Homo sapiens: one gene and its partner. The protein of the gene in region 2 interacts with the protein of the main gene of each other region in a pairwise test. Each region holds a gene or a part of one and is shown on either strand. Other genes may lie near its edges.

The links. Proteins that work in one complex are often made in the same cells at the same time.
Region 1: the proteins of FLNA (region 2) and CAMK1G interact in binary tests that used the Homo sapiens proteins (3 or more experiments, as listed by UniProt).

Annotation. Positions count from the first base shown.
Region 1 is NC_000001.11:209,582,200-209,585,945, reverse strand, and holds the start of CAMK1G (calcium/calmodulin-dependent protein kinase type 1G), read right to left. Parts: upstream 2,233-3,746; 5' UTR 2,174-2,232; exon of another isoform or gene 2,014-2,173; intron 1-2,013. UniProt on the Homo sapiens protein: Calcium/calmodulin-dependent protein kinase belonging to a proposed calcium-triggered signaling cascade. In vitro phosphorylates transcription factor CREB1.
Region 2 is NC_000023.11:154,353,989-154,357,634, forward strand, and holds part of FLNA (filamin-A), read right to left. Parts: intron 3,636-3,646; coding exon 3,446-3,635; intron 3,287-3,445; coding exon 3,263-3,286; intron 1,085-3,262; coding exon 837-1,084; intron 724-836; coding exon 628-723; intron 496-627; coding exon 393-495; intron 304-392; coding exon 163-303; intron 56-162; coding exon 1-55. UniProt on the Homo sapiens protein: Promotes orthogonal branching of actin filaments and links actin filaments to membrane glycoproteins. Anchors various transmembrane proteins to the actin cytoskeleton and serves as a scaffold for a wide range of cytoplasmic signaling proteins.

The DNA of each region.
Region 1 (3,746 bases), on a different chromosome or scaffold from region 2:
AGCCCCAACCCCCTCGCCATTGACCGTGGCGGCGCGCCTGCAGTTGTAGCGCCAGGCACGCAGCCTGTTTGCAGACTCAGCCGCTCCCCTCATTCATGCTGCAGCTCATTCACTCGCTGGCGCTGGCAGGCTGCGGCTGGGCGCCGCCACTCGCGCGCACTCGTGTGGCAATTTATTTCTGGCCCTGTGTGCGTGTGTATGGGGGAGAGGGAGCGAGGGAGGCGCTCTCCTCTTAGAGGGGGATGCTTTTTCACTTCCAGGTAGAATCGCTCCCAGGCTTTATAGTATTCGCTGCCCTGGACCACGCACCTGGGTGGGGCACCGCGCTAGGCACTTTGCATGCATTATCTTGTTTAATGCCCCACGGCCACCTTTCCAGGTAACCTCATTTTACAGCTGAGGTACTGATAAGTAGAAATGTTCAGAAAAATCCCCCACATCAAACAGATAGTGAATGATACAACTGAATTGGATTCCAACGCTAGTCTTCTCGTCACTGTACCACATAACCTGTTGCCTCTTTCCTGGTGGCAGTTGCTGGGATGTCACTCATCTCCACCTTCATCCTTATGATGCTGTAATGCAATCCTAACGTCTGACTGATTACCCTGGGAACACATGGCTCGGACAATCTTGAAAGGGCTGAATCCCTAAAGCACTCAGATTTCTCAGCATGGAGGCTGGGGACAGCATGTCTATTGCCCCAAGCCTCTCATGGTTCCAGCTCAAACCATTTCTCACTCTAACCTCAAGCTTCTTTCCCAAAGAGTACTTTCTGAAGAGTGCTCTTAATAAGCATCCACACACACACACACACCAGAGCAATCTGCAGCATCGTGGAAAGTTCACTGAATTTATCAATAGATCTGGGTTCAGTTGCCACCACCATCACCAGCTTTGCAACCCCAGGCAAACCCTTTAACTTCTAAGCTTCAATGGTCTCATCTATACTAAAGGGGAAATAATACATGCCACACCATCTGATGGGATCGTCCTAAAGATGATTAATTATAAACACATTATAAACTGTAAAGTGTGGTCCCCATATCAGGTATTACTAAGCACTCTGTGTTACGGCCTGTTTCAGAGGTGGGTCTCATCTTTGGTTCTGGTTAAGCTTGGGTCAGCAGGAATGACAGGGACCTTGTTCTGTCTTCAGCTTATGATCTGGAAAAGATCATCTTCTTACCTAAGGCGGAATCTGCTTGACTCTCTTGACCCTTCTCAGAGGCTTTCCTCATGATCAATTTATCTGACTCCAGAGCAAGAGGCTGGCCAGACAAGCACTGCAGCCAGACCAGCGTGAGCCCTGGCAGCCATCTCCGGGAGCCTCAGGGTTAATGTTTGTGCGTCAAAGTTACGTGGAGAGAAGGGGCCATGGTGTGGATGGGGGTGGTGGTGGTGGTGAATCCAGACCTCCTTTTAAGATCTTCACTTGAGAGGTAAACTAGGGAAGTTTAAAAACAGAAGGGAGGTAGACGCGCCCCTGGGGAAGGTGAAGGAAGCTGTCTTGTGACTGACAGCGATAGCTCGGCTGCGTTCTGCATCTTAACGCGGCTGAGGATAGGGAGCCTGAAGCCTGTCCACAGACTCCTCCAGGAGGGACTGAGGCTGACTCGTCTTCCTTAGGCTTGCAGAGCCACAGGCTGTTTACAAATCTTTTTGCCATTGGTTCTGCTAATCCTCCCAATAACCCAAAGAGGTCGGCAGAGAGGGCATACTTTATTTGATGGATGGGGTCAGAGAGGTTAAGAGATGAAGGTTGAGCAGGAGGGAGGGGTGCAAGAGAGTTGGAGGTCCTAACACCCCAGCAGATGGACGGGGTCCCTCTAGGCACAGAGCCTTGTCCCTAGAATGCAGGCATTGCAGGAGGGGCACATGAAGATATTTTTCTCCCTTTTCCCTGCCCAGAAGGGCAAAATGCTTCCATGAAAGCCAGCCCAGGAGTGACGGACAGATAGCTCCACCCGGACCCCCCATTCAGACTTATTTTCCAAGACAGCTATAACTCACCCTTGATGCCAAAAGAGTCAGGGAAGACTGGAACTGGGGCTGAAATAAATGCCCAAGTTGCTTACAAAGTGGCTCTTCAAATCCACTCACTAGGTGCTGCACGCTTCCCATTAAGCAAGGAGACCCTCTAAAGCCAAGAAAAGAAGCAGGGTTGTCTTACCCAGGGACTCGGGAAGAATCCTGCTTGAGCTCCCACTCCAGCTCCTACAGGTCTGTGAGGATTAGCTGCTCCAGTGCTTTAACAATAAACCCAATTAAAGGGGAGGAATGCAGGAGTTTTCTTTCCCAGGACCGTAACCACGCAGCCTTAAAGGGGAGTAAAAGTAGCTAGGGTGGCTTGCATCTCTCTTTCCTTTCCTCGGCTCTGCTCACCCTCCCTCCCAGCGTGCAGTAATGAGTCTTATCCAGAAAAATGCTTGTGCATTTTTGCCTGGTGTGTGTGTGTGTGAGTCTGTGTGCATGTGTATGTGAAATTGTGTTTGCATTGATGTGTGTGATGGAAAGACAGAACGGAAGAATGAAAAACAAAAACATCAAATTATAAGTTCCCATTATCCTGAATGGGTGATGACAGAAAAAAATCAGAGAAGCTTTCTAGGATTGTCTGCCTCAGTTTCCTTTTTAACCCCTCAGGTGCTGGTGTATGTTGTCTAAAAACACCTCCCTGAAAAACAGAACATCTACACTGGCTGACATGTAGGGACTGAAGACAGTGTCCACCTTGCTTGTTATCTCTTACAGAACTGGGAGAAAGGGCCTTGGATGTCCCAAAAGGGGCCCCTCAGTTGGACGGTCTCACTCAGTATCTTTGATATGTCTCTTTTCCTCCAGAAGCTCAGCATTCTGGTCCCCAAACCTGTCTCAGTCCTAACCTATGAGACCCCAGGAAATCATTCCCCTCCTCCGGAAACTCTGTGCTCCCTCTGTTTCCTGTACTCATCTCTCCAACCTGGCCCTTGACCAAGGCTTCACAGTCTCCATCTTAGCTTCTCTGGGGCAGTCCCTTTAGTGCAGATTTCTTTAAACTCTGTCATCTGCTCTCTTGTTTTCTCCTTCTCTACTCTCTCCTTAAGGTTACCATCTACTCACAGAGTCTATTACCATCTTCATAAGAATCTCCTCAGTCAACACCCCACCTGGGTTATCATGCTCAACCTCAACATCCAAATGCCCACTGTCACCTACAAACAAGGCTGAATGTGTTATGGCCACCCTCAAACCCACTCTCCTGTTTTCCCCAACTAGGCTAATGAGCTACCATCTTCCAAACACTCAACTGAGAAACTCCAGGGTTTGCTTTGTTTGTGTTGCCTGTTTAATTTGTCTTCCAAACCCATCCAGCTCTTATGCACTTCCATTTGTTCCTTGAAATTAGCTTTTAACTTGTACCATTTCTTTTGTGTCATCTTGTTTTTTGAATAAATAACATATTCATATTGGCAAGAAAATGACCATATTAAAAGGCATACATTGAGATGTGTTACCCCCTTCTACTCGTTATCTGTCCCTTGACCCTGACATTGCCCTCTATAGGTGACCACTTTTATTATGGTATTTCTTTATGCAAATACAAGCAAATATTCACCTCTATGATCTCAGTTCAGGCCTTCAACCTCCCACCCAGGTAGAACTGTGATAGGATAGGGTGAGATGGTGCAGTAGGATAGTTAAAAGTGGCTCTGGGGAAGACTTCTAGGTTGGATTCCTGGGTCTTCCATTGACAGATATGTGGC
Region 2 (3,646 bases):
TAGGCAGTGACATGGCCACAGTTGACGTAATCCACATAGAACTGCAAGGGGCTTCCTGAGGCAGGAAGAAGGGCCTTGTGGAATGGCAGCCTCGTGTGTCCCCCAGCCCCATCTCTCTGTGAGGTGGTGGCGGTGGAGTGGGCAGAGGCAGGGCAGGCCCACCTGGGATGTGCATGTTGTCATAGCGGATGTCCATCTCGTGCAGGCCAGCCTCGCTGGGTGCATACCGCACGGTCACGGTGCCGTCTTTGTTGTCAGTGATGGTGGGCTGCGCCACCTTGCCTGAGGGCATCCGAACCTCCCCTGTGGGGCAGTGGGGCTGAGGTCAGGGCAGCTCATTGGCACAGTCTGGCCTCCTTGGCTCCCGAGCTCCTTCCCAAGTCCCCACTCACCTGTGATCTCGCCCTTCTTGATGGTGAAGGGGATGACAAGGTCAAAGGGCCTCAGGCTGGTCACATCCAGCCCATTGACACCCACCAGGGGCCTCTCCGGGGCCTGCAGTGGAGACACAGGGCATGGGTGAGGGACAGTGGGAGGATCTGGGGTCCCTCCTCACACATGGTAAACTAGGGGCTCACAGAACACCCAGCTGGCTAGCCCCAGTGTCCCTAGCTGGCCAGGCCGTACCCAAGTCTGCTGGCCGCCCTGGGCGTAGGTGTACTGTGGGGCCAGCTGCTGAGACCGTAGAGGGGGCTGCACCGAGGGCTGGTCCCCAGCCAGAGCCTGCAGGGCAAAGCAGAGAGCTGCTGGAGAGTCTGTTGTCACAGAGGGGCCCCAGGGGAACAGGCCGGGACCTGCCAGACACCCCTGCTGACCTACCCCCCACCCCTCCTCACCGTCACTTGGAAGGGGCTGTTGGGCACGTGCTCGCCACCAAAGCGCACACAGATGACGTATTTGCCCGGCTGGGGGGCCGTGTAGAAGATGTCGAAAGTGCCGTCCTCATTCTCCACCACGTCCACATCCACCTCTGAGCCATCAGGCGTGCACACGGTGCACGTCACTTTGCCTTTGCCTGCCGCCTTAGTGTCCACAGTGATCACCGTCTCCTCCCCAATCTGAATGGTGGGGCCGATGCCAGCACCTGGTGGGGCAGGGTGGGTCCCCAAAGGGGGGCCAGCGTGTGAGCTCGGGTTCAGGTTGTTCCCGTCCGCCTGCCGCCCACACAGGCCTCTCATTGCCACCACCAAGCACAGCCAGGCCGCCAGGCCTCCTGCCCCGCCCTGCCCCTCCAAGCTGGGATGGCGAGTGGTTTCTCAGAAGGCAGGAAGGTTTCTCCTGACCACCTCAAGTGCCCATGTGGGAGAGGCCCGACAGTAGCACCCAGGTGCCTGGGAGGAAAAGGAAGGGCCCACTCCAGCCTAAGTGTTGACAGCCACTCCCTTGCCTACTCAGCCTCGTCCAGCACCATGGCCCACACTGCTGAACGCCAGCATCTGGCTGGGCACACGGCTGCCTGCGCCCTTCTGGCCTGGCCCCGGCCCCCATTGCTGTGTGTGGACGCGGTGAGGCGGAGTCCTGCTGCAGCGTGGGGGGATGTGACACTTGCCTCCCCACCCCCCAGGCCTGATGGTGAAACCGGAGTTTCCTGACAACTGAGAAGGCTCGCGGTGAAAAGCAGCCCGGTGCAGACAGGAGTGGGAGCGGGGAAGCGGGAGGCAGCGGGGTTAGCACCCGAGTAGCGCAGCGCAGCAGGCTTGGCAGAGCGGGGATAGCACCCAGGGAGACAGGGAACAGGAGGCCCAAGCTACAGCCACCACTGCTGGGTTGCGAGGGCAGAGCAGCTGAGCAGGCTCCAGGGCCCCAGAGTGCCCGAGGAAAGGGGAGAGACAGTGACGTTATGATCTGGGTCTCCGCCGTGGAGGCTTGGGGGGCTGTGGGCTGTGAGGCCTGGCAGTGAGAGTGCCCCCTGCAGCCTGGCCTCCTGCCAGGGAAGCAGCCAGGAGCACGAAACCTACTTGAAGGCCAAGCTCGAGGGGCCCTGCCACCAAGTCCCACTATCGGCCGAGGGCTCCTGCTGCACTAGGCTCCATGCTGGCCTGCCGCGGCCAGGCAGCTCTCCCAGGCTCCAGACCTGGCTGCCGGCTGCCCACGCTGCCCTGGGAGGCTTCACTCATGTGCACCCCATGCCATCTAGTTAGTGGCTTGGGCCCCAACCTCACAGGTACCCGACTGCCCCCACTTTCCCTGCCCGGCTCCCAGCCAACCGCAGGTCTCAGCCACTCCATCCTCAAAGTATGCCTCCTAATTTGGCTCTCACTGAAGCCCCGTGGCCGTCAAGCTTGCCAGAGAGCAACTTCAGCGCCCCCTTCCCCACCCCGGGCTCCCTGTCTCCATTCTGCAAACAGTAGCCAGGGAAACTGAGGTTACTGAGTCTTGCTCCCACCCTCAAAGCCCCCAAGGCCCTGCAATCAGTACTCCCCAGCCTCCCCCGCCCTGCGCACACACGCCTGTCACACACACATCGGATCCTACGGCCTGCTCTATAAAGCCATCTCGCTCCTGCCGCAAAACTCTAGCCACCCTCTCACCCTTTCCTTAGCCACCTCGCCCAAGTGCCAGGCCTGTAGCCTCTCATCAGCATCCCTGGGTGTCCCTGGCTGGGGCAGGTGACCCTCCATGCCTGTTGGGGAATGTCTGAATAACGTCACTGCTGGGGGATAGGGGAAGGGGGAAGGAGGGAGACGGGCCACAGAATGCACTTTGGGGCTCTGAGGCTGGGCCGGGCCCCGCCATGCTGGCCGCCCAAGCAGTCGACACTGGCGCTACTGCACTACCAGCCAGCCCCACCCGCTCATGCACCTCCCCCGGCCCGGGACGCAGAGGCCCCTGGAAGGTGGGGATGGGGGTCTGTGGATCTGGCCAGGGCTGGGGCTCCCATTGAGTTGGGGAGACCCCTTGTTCCCTCAGCCCACGCAGGAGCCCTTGTGCCTCCCTGGGTGCCAAGATCCCGAGACCCCAAAGTCCCCAGTGGGGTGCCTCTCAGGATGCACCTCACCCCAAAGCTCTCAGCTGCAACCCGAGTTCTCAGATGGGGAAATAAAGGCCCAGAGAGGGGAAGAGCTGGAGCGGTCATGCTCAGCTCCGGAAGCCTCCCTGGGCCCTCGCCCTCCAGCCCACGGCCTCATCTTCTGCACCCCACCCAACTCTGTCCCTGCCTAGAGCTGCAGCTGGAACTGTCCTGGGAATCGGCCCCAAGAGGAAAGGAAGCTGCCCCTCTGGGCAGGAGGGGCATTGGGAGTGGCCCCAGCAAGCAGCTTACCTAGCCCGTGACCTCCGATTGACACTGAGGTGAGAGGGCAGAGAGCAAGGAGAAAGGTCAGGTGAGTCACTCAAGGGGGCGGCCCCCACTCCCACACGCCGCCCCAAGCAGCGAGCCCTTGCACACAGGCACAACCCAAGCCCCGTGCCGAGCGCCGCAGCGGCCAACAGCGGGCGGGCTCACCTGTGACAGTGCACTTGCTGGCGTCCCCGGTGGGCACGGCACGCACGCGGTACGGGGAGAAGGGGATCTCGTCACCACCGTACTTGATGAGGATGGTGTAGCGACCTGTCACGTCTGGCACGTAGGCCACTGTATACGTGCCGTCATGGTTGTCTTGGATGTGTGTCTTCTTCGGCTTGCCTTCGGGATCCTGTGTGGCAG